Linked DNA regions of Homo sapiens. The protein of the gene in region 1 purifies or fractionates together with the protein of each later gene. This does not show direct contact. Each region holds a gene or a part of one and is shown in the gene's direction. Other genes may lie near its edges.

Region 1 (4,121 bases):
TCGAAGTTTGGTCTCTCTGACCCCATTTGTGATGCCAATTGTAACAAGAAAAATCCAGAATCATATTTTTAAAAAAACCTTTCCCCCAAACTAGGAGGGAGCCAAGAGACCAAAGAATGACTCAGACAAGTCCAGCTTGGCCAGTGGATAAGTTTATTAGGACTTACATATGAGACACTCCTAGATAGCAGAGGACACCTTTAGAGACCTGCCCTGCTTTCCATCTCTAAGCTGCTTTTAAGCTAATTTTCTGGCTCTTTGCCTACTGTGTGTGCATGATGGGACTGTTTTCCTTGATAGGTTCTCAGGTATTCTCTGGGATGTTTGGGTACTCAAGGACACCTGCTCCTCAGCTGGACACCATGGCGTTGACTCACCACTTGGCCATCAAGGATACCTGCTTCTTGGCTGGGCACCGTGTCCTTGACTCACTACTTAGCCATTAAGGTTCAAGCAGTGGTCATACACCCTTAAGTATCCTGGTGGGGGACCTGCAACCCTACACCAGTGACAAGGCCTATTTCTCATTGTCCACGACATGTGACTTTGGGAAAACTACTTAGATTCTCTCTGCTTCAGTTCTGCCACCCACAGACCAGAAATAGATACCAGACCCAGCCCTATCTCTTCTTTCTAGGGTTGTTGTGACATTTGGAAAGAGATTATGGGTTTAAGAAACTTTAAAGGGTTAGAGTGATACAAAGTGTAGTGAATTTTACATCTCAGACTAACCTGATATAAAATCTCTACTGACAAGTCCGTAAAGATCTTAGCTCAGTGCCTAGGATTCAGTAAATGCTTAGAGGATATCAGCTATTAGTGTTACCGCTCATTTTCTTGTTAGACTATGCTCCCAATTATCCAAGGATGACTTTGGTAGTCTAATATTGGTCTAAGTCTTTAAGTATTAGAGGTACTGCCTTCTGAATTGTCACCAGGCCTAATGTCATCTAGACTGTAAACAATTCCCCAACTATCAAGATAACTGTTCTATGAATGCTTTTCATTTCCATATTTTCTTGGCTCAATGCTGTTGCTCAGGACAAAAAACACCAAGTTGGTGATGATGACTGAGTGATGAAACAGTGATCAGAGGGACATATGAAGCTAGTGTAACAAAGATGGGAGGGGCTGGGGAAAGTATAAGTAACTATTAGGAGGTTCAGAGCAAACCTCAGGACACTTACTCCCTGAGCTAAGGTAAAGAATATTGTCCCTCATAGCCCTGGTCTCAGAAACTCTGTGGGGAAGATAAGTCCTGAGCCTAGAGCTGCCATTTCCACAGACAACTGAACTACCTTCAAACAGATGTGTTTTTAGGGGCAGCAGATAGAAGGAGCTGAATCCAGGAGTTTCCTTCCCTGAAATGCCCCAACAGAGGCACAGTCCTCCACCTTCCCTGGAACAGAGGGCTTTCATCTGTCTCTCTGAAGCCATCTCCCTCCCCTGTTTATGCCCAGAGCTGCTTTCCAATCCCATGGAGTGCCTCCGTATCTAACCATAGCCACTGAGTCTACCAGGTGTTCCTGAGAAGACAACTAAGCCAACCGCTCCACACTCTGCTGATTTTCTTCTACATCTCACAGGGGGAAGAGCTGGATCACCATGAAATATGTCTTCTATTTGGGTGTCCTCGCTGGTATGTACTCAAGACCTTGTACTCTGTCCTGTAAGGCACAGTTTAATGGATGGGGTGAGACAGAGGCAGGATTGCGAAGGGTGCAGAAAAAGAGTCAAAAATAGTGTCATCAGCAGAATTAGGAGTCCTGCCTCTCAGACTCCATCCAAAGGCTCTCCGGATAGGCTGAGCCCACTTTTCTAGTGTTAAGCTATAGGGTGGGTTAAGGCACACATGTGCCTTGGAGAAGGCTTAACAGTGAGTGTCCTCCCACCGACACTAATGCAGAAAACAGAGAAGTAGAAACAAAAGATCAAGTACTAGGACCCTACCTTCTGTAGTCCTTGCCCCACATGGGGTTCTTCTGACAGCAGAATTTGCAGATGAGGCATTTCCCACCATTCTCTGACTGCCTAGGTTGTATCACACATTAGCTGTGTGAGATTAGCCAAGTTAATTAACTCTTCTGTGCTTCAATTTCTTCAAAATGGGGGTATGACTACCCATATTATAGAGCTATTGTGAAGATTAAATAAATCTATGTAAAGCACTTAGAACAATGCCTGCTATAGAGAGCTCAATGTCTCTTGCCCTTGTTTACAGTCTACCCTTTTCTCTTTGGGGTTTCTAACTGTGTGATCACACAGAAGGGTGTGGTGAGGTACAGACCCAGTCTTGGGGAAGGTTAACAGGAGTAGCAAGAGAAGCCAAGACAAGAAGAGGGCTTTATTTCTGATACTAGAATCAGCCTTCCTCCCCTTTATTCTCTAGGGTATGTTTTAAATAATTCATTTATAAAAACAATATATGTTCATATTACAAAATTTAGACATTTTTAAAGTAGAAAAATAAGCATCATTCATAATCCCACCTCTTAGTCAACACATGCTAACACTTTGAGTTTACTCTCAGAATCTATATATTTTTTGCATTTAAATGTTTTTATTTATTTGTTTTTAGACAAATAGATTATATCCACAATTTTCTTGTTCTTTTTAACTTAAATAAGCATTAATATTCTTTTGCTGTTTAATATTCTAATTAGTTTAATTTTTATTATATATGATGTTCCACTTTTTGATGTGCTTCAATGTCCAACATTACTATGTCAGATATTTATGTTTCCAGTGTTCAGCTGTTATAGCTAACATGAGCATACTTGTTTGTAATCCTTGTCTATATCTGATTTTTTTCTTTAGAATGGATTCTTGGGGTTGGAATGATTAGGTCACAGGTTATAAACAATTTATGATTCTTGATGCCTGTTTCTAAATTGCTTTTCAAGAAGATGGAATCAATTTACTAGCAGTGATGAGTGTCTCTCATTATACTCTCTTAGATTGAATATTATCAATATTAAACAAAATTATTATAAATATAAGATAAAATGGCATATCGTTTTAATTTACATTTTTATTAGAAAAACATGTCAAATACGTTAACACTTCTTGGCCAACTGATAACTGTTTAAGAATCATCCAGATTCCTTTTCAAGTAAGAGACTGTTACCTTATTTTTATAATATTTATGTATTAAGAATGTTCATTATTTTCTCAGGGACATTTTTCTTTGCTGACTCATCTGTTCAGAAAGAAGACCCTGCTCCCTATTTGGTGTACCTCAAGTCTCACTTCAACCCCTGTGTGGGCGTCCTCATCAAACCCAGCTGGGTGCTGGCCCCAGCTCACTGCTATTTACCGTTGAGTATTTGGGCATCCCCATCCCCAAAACAGCTACTGTTCATTCTAGATCAGTGGTTCTCATATAAGGGTAACTTCTCTACAGGGTACACTTGGCAATGTCTGAAGATATTTTTGGTTGTCACAACCAGGGGGCAGTGCTATTGGCATCTAATGGGGAGAGGCTAGAGCAAAGATGCTGTTTAACATCCTACAATTCACAGCACAGTCCCCACAATAAAGATTTGTCCAGCCCAGAACAGCAATAGTGCCACTGTTGAGGAACCCTGTGTTACATGTTATGCCTCCTCAGACTCTCATAAGTTTTTTTCTTTTTTTTTTTTTACTGGCAGTATGAATGCATTTTATCACTTAAAGATCTAGCAGGTAACTGATGATGCACTCAAATTGGGTCAATTGAGGTGAGTTTTAAGAAGGAACCAATTGCAAAGGTATGGAGACATTAAAGGGACAATATTAAGAATAGTTCCATACCACCAGGGTTTGTATTAAGAAAATGCAGTTACCACCTCTAGGCCTAAAAAGGCAAGAGGAGAAGATAATTTCAAAGGAGGCAAGGAGAGATAGAGAAAAAGCGAGACCTGTGTGAGGAGACAGCCTGATAAGGATTGTAACCCCTAGTCAAGGAGCACAGCCACTCTGTGACAAAACTGCAGGGAGGGACCTGGGAGGATAAGTACTCCAATCTCACTCTTCTTCCTCCAGTTACTTTCTGGTGCTTCCTATTGGCCAATAGAAGGAAGCCAGAGGACAAGAGAGCCCACTGATTAAATCCATATATGTCCCCTTCCAAAGGTGCAGAG
Region 2 (3,652 bases), on another chromosome or scaffold:
TATTTAGAGATGAGGTCTTGCTTTGTCACCCAGGCTAGAGTACAGTGGCTCGATCATAGCTCACTGCTGCCTTGAATTCCTGGGTTCAAGGGATCCTCCTGCCTCAGCCTCCCAAGTACCCGGGACTATAGGTGCACATCATGATGCCTGGCTAGTTAAAAAAATTTTTTTTGTAGTGATGGGGTCTCATCACCTTGCCCAGACCCATTTCAAGACTCCTAGGCTCAAGTGATCATTCCATGTTGGTCTCCCAAAGTGCTGAGATTACAGGTGTGAGCCACCGTGCCTGGCCCCATAACTTCATTTTTGTGTGAAGTTGCCCAGCCTAAAGGCTGGCCACTAAATGGACACTTAAAAACTCTCTAATAGTGTGGATTGGTGGGCAGTCTGATTCCTCTGGCTTAAACCAAAATGCAAACATGAAAGGAGGCATGGCCATAGACCCCCGGTGAGAATTCTTTACTGTGATGACACAGAAGCTGAAGAGGGATGAAAAAGCAGTTTGACCAGCAAGCTTGCTGGTTCCCTAGGCCACCCTTTCTTCTCTCCTTTTCAGTTCCTCCTTCCCTCTAACTTGGAGCTGCTAACTCCAGCCCATCTAACTGTTTCTGATTAAGAAAGCTTCAAGCCTTATAAGGCCCTCTGTTGCCTATGGTTTATGTTGGCTGGAGAGCAAGGTTGTTTTTTGCAAAGTCTGATTCAAAGAAGTGGCAAGGGCTTACGTAGGCTGTGTGTGTCCGCCTCCTGGGGCTGGACTGCCTTATTGGAACAGGTTCCTTTGAGGGAGCCTGAGAGTAAGGGGGGCTTATTATCCCTTACCCTTAGTGGTGGCTCTGTAAGGCTAATGTGTGGTGTGGCCACAGGGCTTCCTGGCAAGTGTATTCGCTGAGAACTTAAAGGTAAAAGCAAGCCCCTGTTTACCTACACAGTGTACCTGTCATGCTACCAGCCACAGAGGCATCCTGTTTCAGGAATCAAGTCTGGAAGCAGCTTCTGCTTATTAATTAAGAACTAAAGCCCCTTGGCTCTTCAGGCACATCGCTTTCCCCTCTGGAGAAAGTTTGGTGGACCGTGTCCCTTGGGGTTCTTGCGAGTCCGACTGGCCTTCCGCGCAGTGATGTTGGAGAGCCCTTTTTCTGAGAGCCATGCTCTGCCTCATCTTCACCTCCCCTCTTGCTACCTCTTGAGTCAGCCAAGCCTGTTCCTGCCTTAGGACTTTGGCACATGTTCTTCCTGCCTGGAACTTTCTCCCCGCTCTCCTCCTGCTTCCCCCCAGATCTTGGCACAGTTCTCAAGTGTTCCAGTTCTGATGCCACCTCTTCCAAGAGGCATTCCCGCCTCATTCTGTCTGCAGCTTCCCCTTCCAAGTGCTCCATCCAGCCTTTCTCATTTCAACCACAGCACACAGAAAAGGACTAGGTGACCGTTCCTCAACTCTCCCAGCTGGTGCCCTGCTACACGCACAGGGATATAGGTAATTCATCACATGCAAGGGCAGCCTTAGGGCTCAGTTCTCTCAATCAGTTGAGAGAGGCTGCAGGTCTTTATATTTAAGTCGCGGAATCTTTGCAGTATCTTACCTGTAATTTGACTCTCTACCCTTCCTTCCACCTTTGCTTCCTGAGGGATCTCTTTGCCTTATGTGCCCAGCGAACTTGGCTCACAGTGCGTGTTAAACTCTTTGTTAAATGACTGGCCCTGAGAGGTCCAGCCATCTGATGCTGGCTAGCCCTCAATGCCTTGCTTCCAGAGGGATCTAACCTGTCAATAAGCATGCTCTCTTTTTGATATTACTATTATGTCAGCTGGGCAGCTGGGGGTCTCTGAAGCAAAATTGGCATCAATTATTATAGGAAAATAAGGCCTTACAAGTTTGTACACAGATGAGTTGACATTAATGCAAATTTAGGATGGTTAATAAGAAACATAAAGCTGTGTGGTAATAGAGCATGCATTGCTACTTGTATGTATCTTAATAACGTGTTTTCTATCAAAACATTACTTGTAGAAAGGATTTGGCTTTTGACTGTGTACAAGGCTTGAAAGGACAGTCCTTTGCCCACTGCCCCCCACCCCCATTACTTTCAATTCTTCCAGCTGTCCCCACCATTGTCAGTAGTATTATTTTCTTTCTTTTTAAGGATTATTATCTGATTTGTTTTTCTGCTGTGGGAGATAGGATTTAGCTCGTTCCTATGCTTTTTTCTTCCCTCATCATCCCAGTGTAGAGATAGCCCAAGTTTTGGTCAAGTTGATCTTCAGAATATACATTATTATAATATGAACCTTGTTTATGGCTGCAAGGTTTTTAGTTTCCCATATTTCTTCTTTTCCTTCATTTTCTTCTTCTCCTCTCCTAGTTAATTTCCTTAGTTTCTTTTGCTTAATTTTCTGTCTCTCTCACCAGTTCCCTGACCACCTCGCAGCCTCCACCATTGCTGTGGAATGCCTGTCATTGGGGGAAAGTGGCTCTCACTGTGGCTCCACATACCAGGTACTCGCAACGGTTCCACGTTTCTCCTGGGCGCATCCCTTTTCCCTGGCTCTGCTTCCCCTTCAGCCTTGGAATTCCCTCTCCCCTTCTCTTGTCTCGTTTCTGGATCCAGTGCCCCTCCTTTCTTGGTTGATTTCCTTGTCTTGGGGGAGCCCATCGTTCAGTAGCTTGCTGAGAAGGTGTGCGTGGTTTGTGGCCCACAAGAAGCCAGCCGATCCATGCAGGGACAGGCACCTTTGAAGGCATGGATTGGGCCTTCAGTTGGGTGGCTGAAGTCAGCAGACAACTAGGCCTGTGGAGCCCTTCCGCCAGGCCAGGCCAGCAGAAGGTCTGGCTTCACTTTTTAGAGAAGTTATAAATGTGGCGATCTGGATTTGGGTACCAGGGAGTGGTGAAAATGGGTCCCCCCCAACTTTTTTTTTTTTTTTTTTTTTTTAAAGACAGGTCTCACTGTCCCCCAGGCTGGAGTGCAGTAATGCCATCATAGCTCACTGCAGCCTTGATTTCCTGGGCTCAAGTGATCCTCCCACCTCAGCCTGCTCAGTAGCTGGGACAAGAGGCATGTACTACTATGCCCGACTAATTCTTTTAAATTTTTTTTTGTAGAGATGAGGTCTCACCACATTGCCCAGGCTAGTCTCGAACTCCTGGGCTCAAGTAATCTTCCAACTTCCCAAAGTGTTGGGATTACAGGTGTGAGCCATCGTGCCTGGCTGAAGATGGGTCTTGAATGAAAGTCTATATATTGAATGGGGCATCCCAACTCTCCTTGGCTCCCATAATGCTGGCATTCAGGCTTATATTCTCTCATTCCTACCCCAAGATACTAGAACATTCTAGTCTGAGGACACTGGCACCCCATTTTCTGTTCCTCCTTCACCCCTAACAGGGCACTTCCATGTCCTATGGACAAAACTTTCAGTTGGTCAGTAGCAGAGAGTGGCAGTAACAGGCCCACTGGAGAAAAGGTCATTGCTTGTTTTTTGAGACAAGGTGTCACTCTGTTGCCCAGGTTGGAGTGCAGTGGTGCGATCTCGGCTCACTGCAACCTCTGCCTCCTGGGTTCAAGCAATTCTCCCACCTCAGCCTCTCGAGTAGTTGGGACTACAGGTGTGCGCCACTATGCCTGGGTAATTAAAAAAAAATTTTTTTTTTGTA
Region 3 (3,652 bases), on another chromosome or scaffold:
ATAGTTTCTGTTTACTACTAGCATTGTAGTAGTCTGATCTTGGACACATTGTCTAAATGTTGACACTGTACTTTAATTTCTTTGCTGTGAGGATTAAATGTATCAATAAGTTCAGAAAAGAGCTAACATAGGAGGCCTGAGACTGCTCTCCTTAGAAAGGCCTGCTTGGAAGGTTGGCCCCTGTCTGGCATCTAGGAACTTGGATTTCTGGAGTATTCCCACTATTCCTTAACTGATAAGAGTGGCCTATTGTGTGCCTGGAGCATTTGTGCATTGTGGTTTATGCCGAATACCAGCTTTCCTTCCAGGAGTATGGAATTTTGGTATGTGCGAAGTAGAGGGTGCTTATATAATCAGCACCCCCGCCTAAAAAACTTGGGTACTGATTCTCTAATGAGCAGAAACAACACTTCACATGTGTCGTCGCAATTTGATGGTGGAAGAATTATGTCCTCTGAGACTCCAACCGGACACTTGTGCCTAGTTTCTTCTGGACTTTGCCCTAAGCACCTTTTCCCTTTGCTGATTTTGCTGTGTATCCTTTTATGTAATAAATTATAGCCATGAGCGCAGCTGTATTCTGGGTCCTGCAATTCCTCCTACTGAACTTCGGTGTGATCTTGGGATCCCCCAACACTTGTGAACCCCAACACGAATACATATTAGGGATTACAGTGCCTCTTTCTTACCTAGGCAAGTGCTAATTGAGGGTTATTTGTAATGGTTGTTGTGATGGTGATGATGATACTAATGATGATGATAAGTAATAATAAGAAAAAATTAAGTTAACAAAAATAGTTGATGAATGTAGTGAGTTGAATAATGTTCCCCCAAATTTCGTGACCACCTAGAAAGAACTTCAGAATGTGATCTTATTGGAAAATAGACCTTATTTGCAGATGTAATTAGTAAGGATCTCCAGATGAAATCATGACTGCTGTCTTTATTAGAAGAGGAACAAGGACATAGGCACACAGAGAAGAAAACAATGTTAAGACAGAGGCAGAGATAGTAGTGAGGCAGCTACAAGCCAAAGGATGAAAGATTGCCAGGAGTCACCATAAGTTAGGAAGAGGCAAGGAAAAATTCTGCCAGAGTCTTCAGAGGGAATGTGTCTCTGCTGACACCTTGATTTTAGACTTATAGCTTCCAGAACTGTGGGAGAACAGGTTCCTGTTGTTTTAAGCCACACAGTTTGCAATAATTTATTCTGACAGTTCTAGGAGATGAATACAGTGAGTTTTGGGTAAACAGATACTAAAATAATCTAAAATAATCTGAACATTAAAATTGCTCTCCTAGTTACTGTTTAATTTCTTCCCTTTTCTGTCCTCCAAAATCTAAAAGATGGCAGTACAGGAAATGCAGAAGCAATCCTGACATTCCTATTCTTTACTCTGTCTTCTAATGCATTGCCAAATGTAGTCAGTTCTACTTCTGAATTATTTCTCCAACTTACTCACTTCTCAACTCTCTCCACCAAGCTACTGTCATCTCTTGCCTAAACTATTAAAATGGGCTTCTACCTGGACTCTTCTTACTCTATCTGACCCATTTTCTATAGGCAACCAGAATGATCTTTCTTAGATGTATGTCTGATTACATGACACACTTGCTTAAAATCTTTCAATGGTTTTTCTCTTCAGGTTAGTTAAAATCCCAAATCCACAACATGATTTATGAGACCCTACATGATCTAGCCCCTGTCTACCTCCAGTCTCATTTCATACCACTCTCTCCATCCCTCAGTATGCACCTGGTCTTTTAAAACTTTCCTTAATATGCTTTTCACTACTTCTGGACTATTGCATGAGCTAGTTTCTCTGTGCAAAATCTTGTTCCCCTACTCTTCCCTGCTAATATCAGAAAGAAAGGGAGGGAGAAGAAGTACATGTAGGAGGAGGAGCACAGGCTTTGTGTCCATCAGAGCAGTCAGATACCCAGCTTCCCTGCTCACTATCCTTGTAACCTTGGGCAAGTTACTTGATATTGAGTGTCAGTGTTCTGTAAGAATTCTTGGGCAAGTTACCTGGCATTAAGTGTCAGTGTTCTGTAAGTTATCTGTAAGAATTATGATGCCTACCTCATTGGATGACTGTGTTTTATATGAGTTAAAAGATACTATACAAGGATTAAGCGGAATAATATAAAATATTTAACAGTGCCTGGCACAGATTAAGCATTTACTCAATGGAAAGATTATTATTATGAAAATGGCTTAACCAGAATTGCAGTCTAACATTTATATAACCATCTTTTTTTTTTTTTTTTGAGACACAGTCTCGCTCTGTCACCCAGGCTGGAGTGCAATAGCGTGATCTTGGCTCGCTGCAACCTCCGCCTCCCGGGTTCCAGCGATTCTCCTGCCTCAGCCTCCTGAGTAGCTGGGATCATAGGCATGGGCCACTACGCCCAACTAATTTTTTGTATTTTCAGTAGAGATGGGGTTTCACCATGTTGGTCAGGCTGTTCTGGAACTCCTGACCTCATGATCTGCCCGCCTAGGCCTCCCAAAGTGTTGGGATTACAGGCGTGAGCCACTGCACCCGGCCATAACCATCATTTTTCTAAAGTGCTTTGCATTGCTAGTTACTTTATGGAGTTTCACAAATTTCTCTTTAAAATCTTTCTCCTTTTTAGAATGTAAGCTTAATCTAAAGTAAGATACAACTGTTTATAATAAAAGAAATCTAAGATTGAATGCCATATATTCCCTGTAACTTTTATTCTTCTATGTGACATGGTTAAAATATGACCTGACTTATATTCCGCAGCAGGATAATTATCCATGCAGAGCAAAGACCTTATCTCTTCTTCTCTGCTTTATTCCCATTTGCCAGCATAGTGCCAGTACATTGTAGGTTCATAATTAAATTTTTGATGAATGAAAAAGTTATTTTGAAGTACCTACAGTTTATTATTTGATAAACATTGATATTCTGTGTAACACAGGATCATATCACTTGTTCATTAGTATTTTGTATATATCTACAACTAATAGAGGATATCCTGTTTTTAACTGTTTAAAATTCTTTAAATATTAATATTTAGGAGTTCTTTCTTTGTCATGTGGAATTCTAAAATTAGTAGAGGAAAAAAACACTTAGATGTTGATGTTTGGGATGTCAAAGATGGTTTTCAGTGCAATACTTGCTTAAAGCATGTTTTCATTTACTCACACTCTCATCAGAGCTTAGGAAATTGAAATAAGCCACCAGGAGTATTTTTATGAGCGCTGTATGTACCCACACAGACATTTGGCTGACAAATAGGTCAAGGTTGCTGTTAATAGCATGTCTGAAGGTTATATGAATTATATAGCACATTACTTTTCAGTGTAAACTTAAAAATGGGTCTCAGAACAAAACATGGTCTCTCAAATATCAAATTTCATAAATAGGGGCATTCAGTCTTGTTGATAGATTGACTTTCAAAATCAAAATGCAAGTTATTATAATTCTTTATTACTGAAATTGGCCATTTTTGAACCTGCTTATATTTTCAGCCAGAATTACAGGTTTCTTTATTATTATAATACTTCCATCTGTCTTTTTTAGGCATCAGCGATGCTTCCTTCTTGTACCAGTTTAGGAACACTAATTTAATTAAGTGTCCCTTATTATATATGACACACCACACCATACTAGGATCG

What was found.
Region 2: the proteins of PRSS37 (region 1) and AKAP1 purify together in Homo sapiens (affinity purification with mass spectrometry; 2 studies listed by BioGRID and IntAct, with this or other methods). This does not show direct contact.
Region 3: the proteins of PRSS37 (region 1) and ARSK purify together in Homo sapiens (affinity purification with mass spectrometry; one large-scale study listed by BioGRID and IntAct). This does not show direct contact.

The regions. Positions count from the first base shown.
Region 1 is NC_000007.14:141,838,534-141,842,654, reverse strand, and holds the start of PRSS37 (probable inactive serine protease 37 isoform 1 precursor), read left to right. Parts: upstream 1-1,169; 5' UTR 1,170-1,605; coding exon 1,606-1,639; intron 1,640-2,305; exon of another isoform or gene 2,306-2,390; intron 2,391-3,175; coding exon 3,176-3,317; intron 3,318-3,650; exon of another isoform or gene 3,651-3,719; intron 3,720-4,121. UniProt on the Homo sapiens protein: Plays a role in male fertility. May have a role in sperm migration or binding to zona-intact eggs. Involved in the activation of the proacrosin/acrosin system.
Region 2 is NC_000017.11:57,091,701-57,095,352, forward strand, and holds part of AKAP1 (A-kinase anchor protein 1, mitochondrial precursor), read left to right. Parts: intron 1-3,652.
Region 3 is NC_000005.10:95,568,529-95,572,180, forward strand, and holds part of ARSK (arylsulfatase K precursor), read left to right. Parts: intron 1-3,652. UniProt on the Homo sapiens protein: Catalyzes the hydrolysis of pseudosubstrates such as p-nitrocatechol sulfate and p-nitrophenyl sulfate. Catalyzes the hydrolysis of the 2-sulfate groups of the 2-O-sulfo-D-glucuronate residues of chondroitin sulfate, heparin and heparitin sulfate.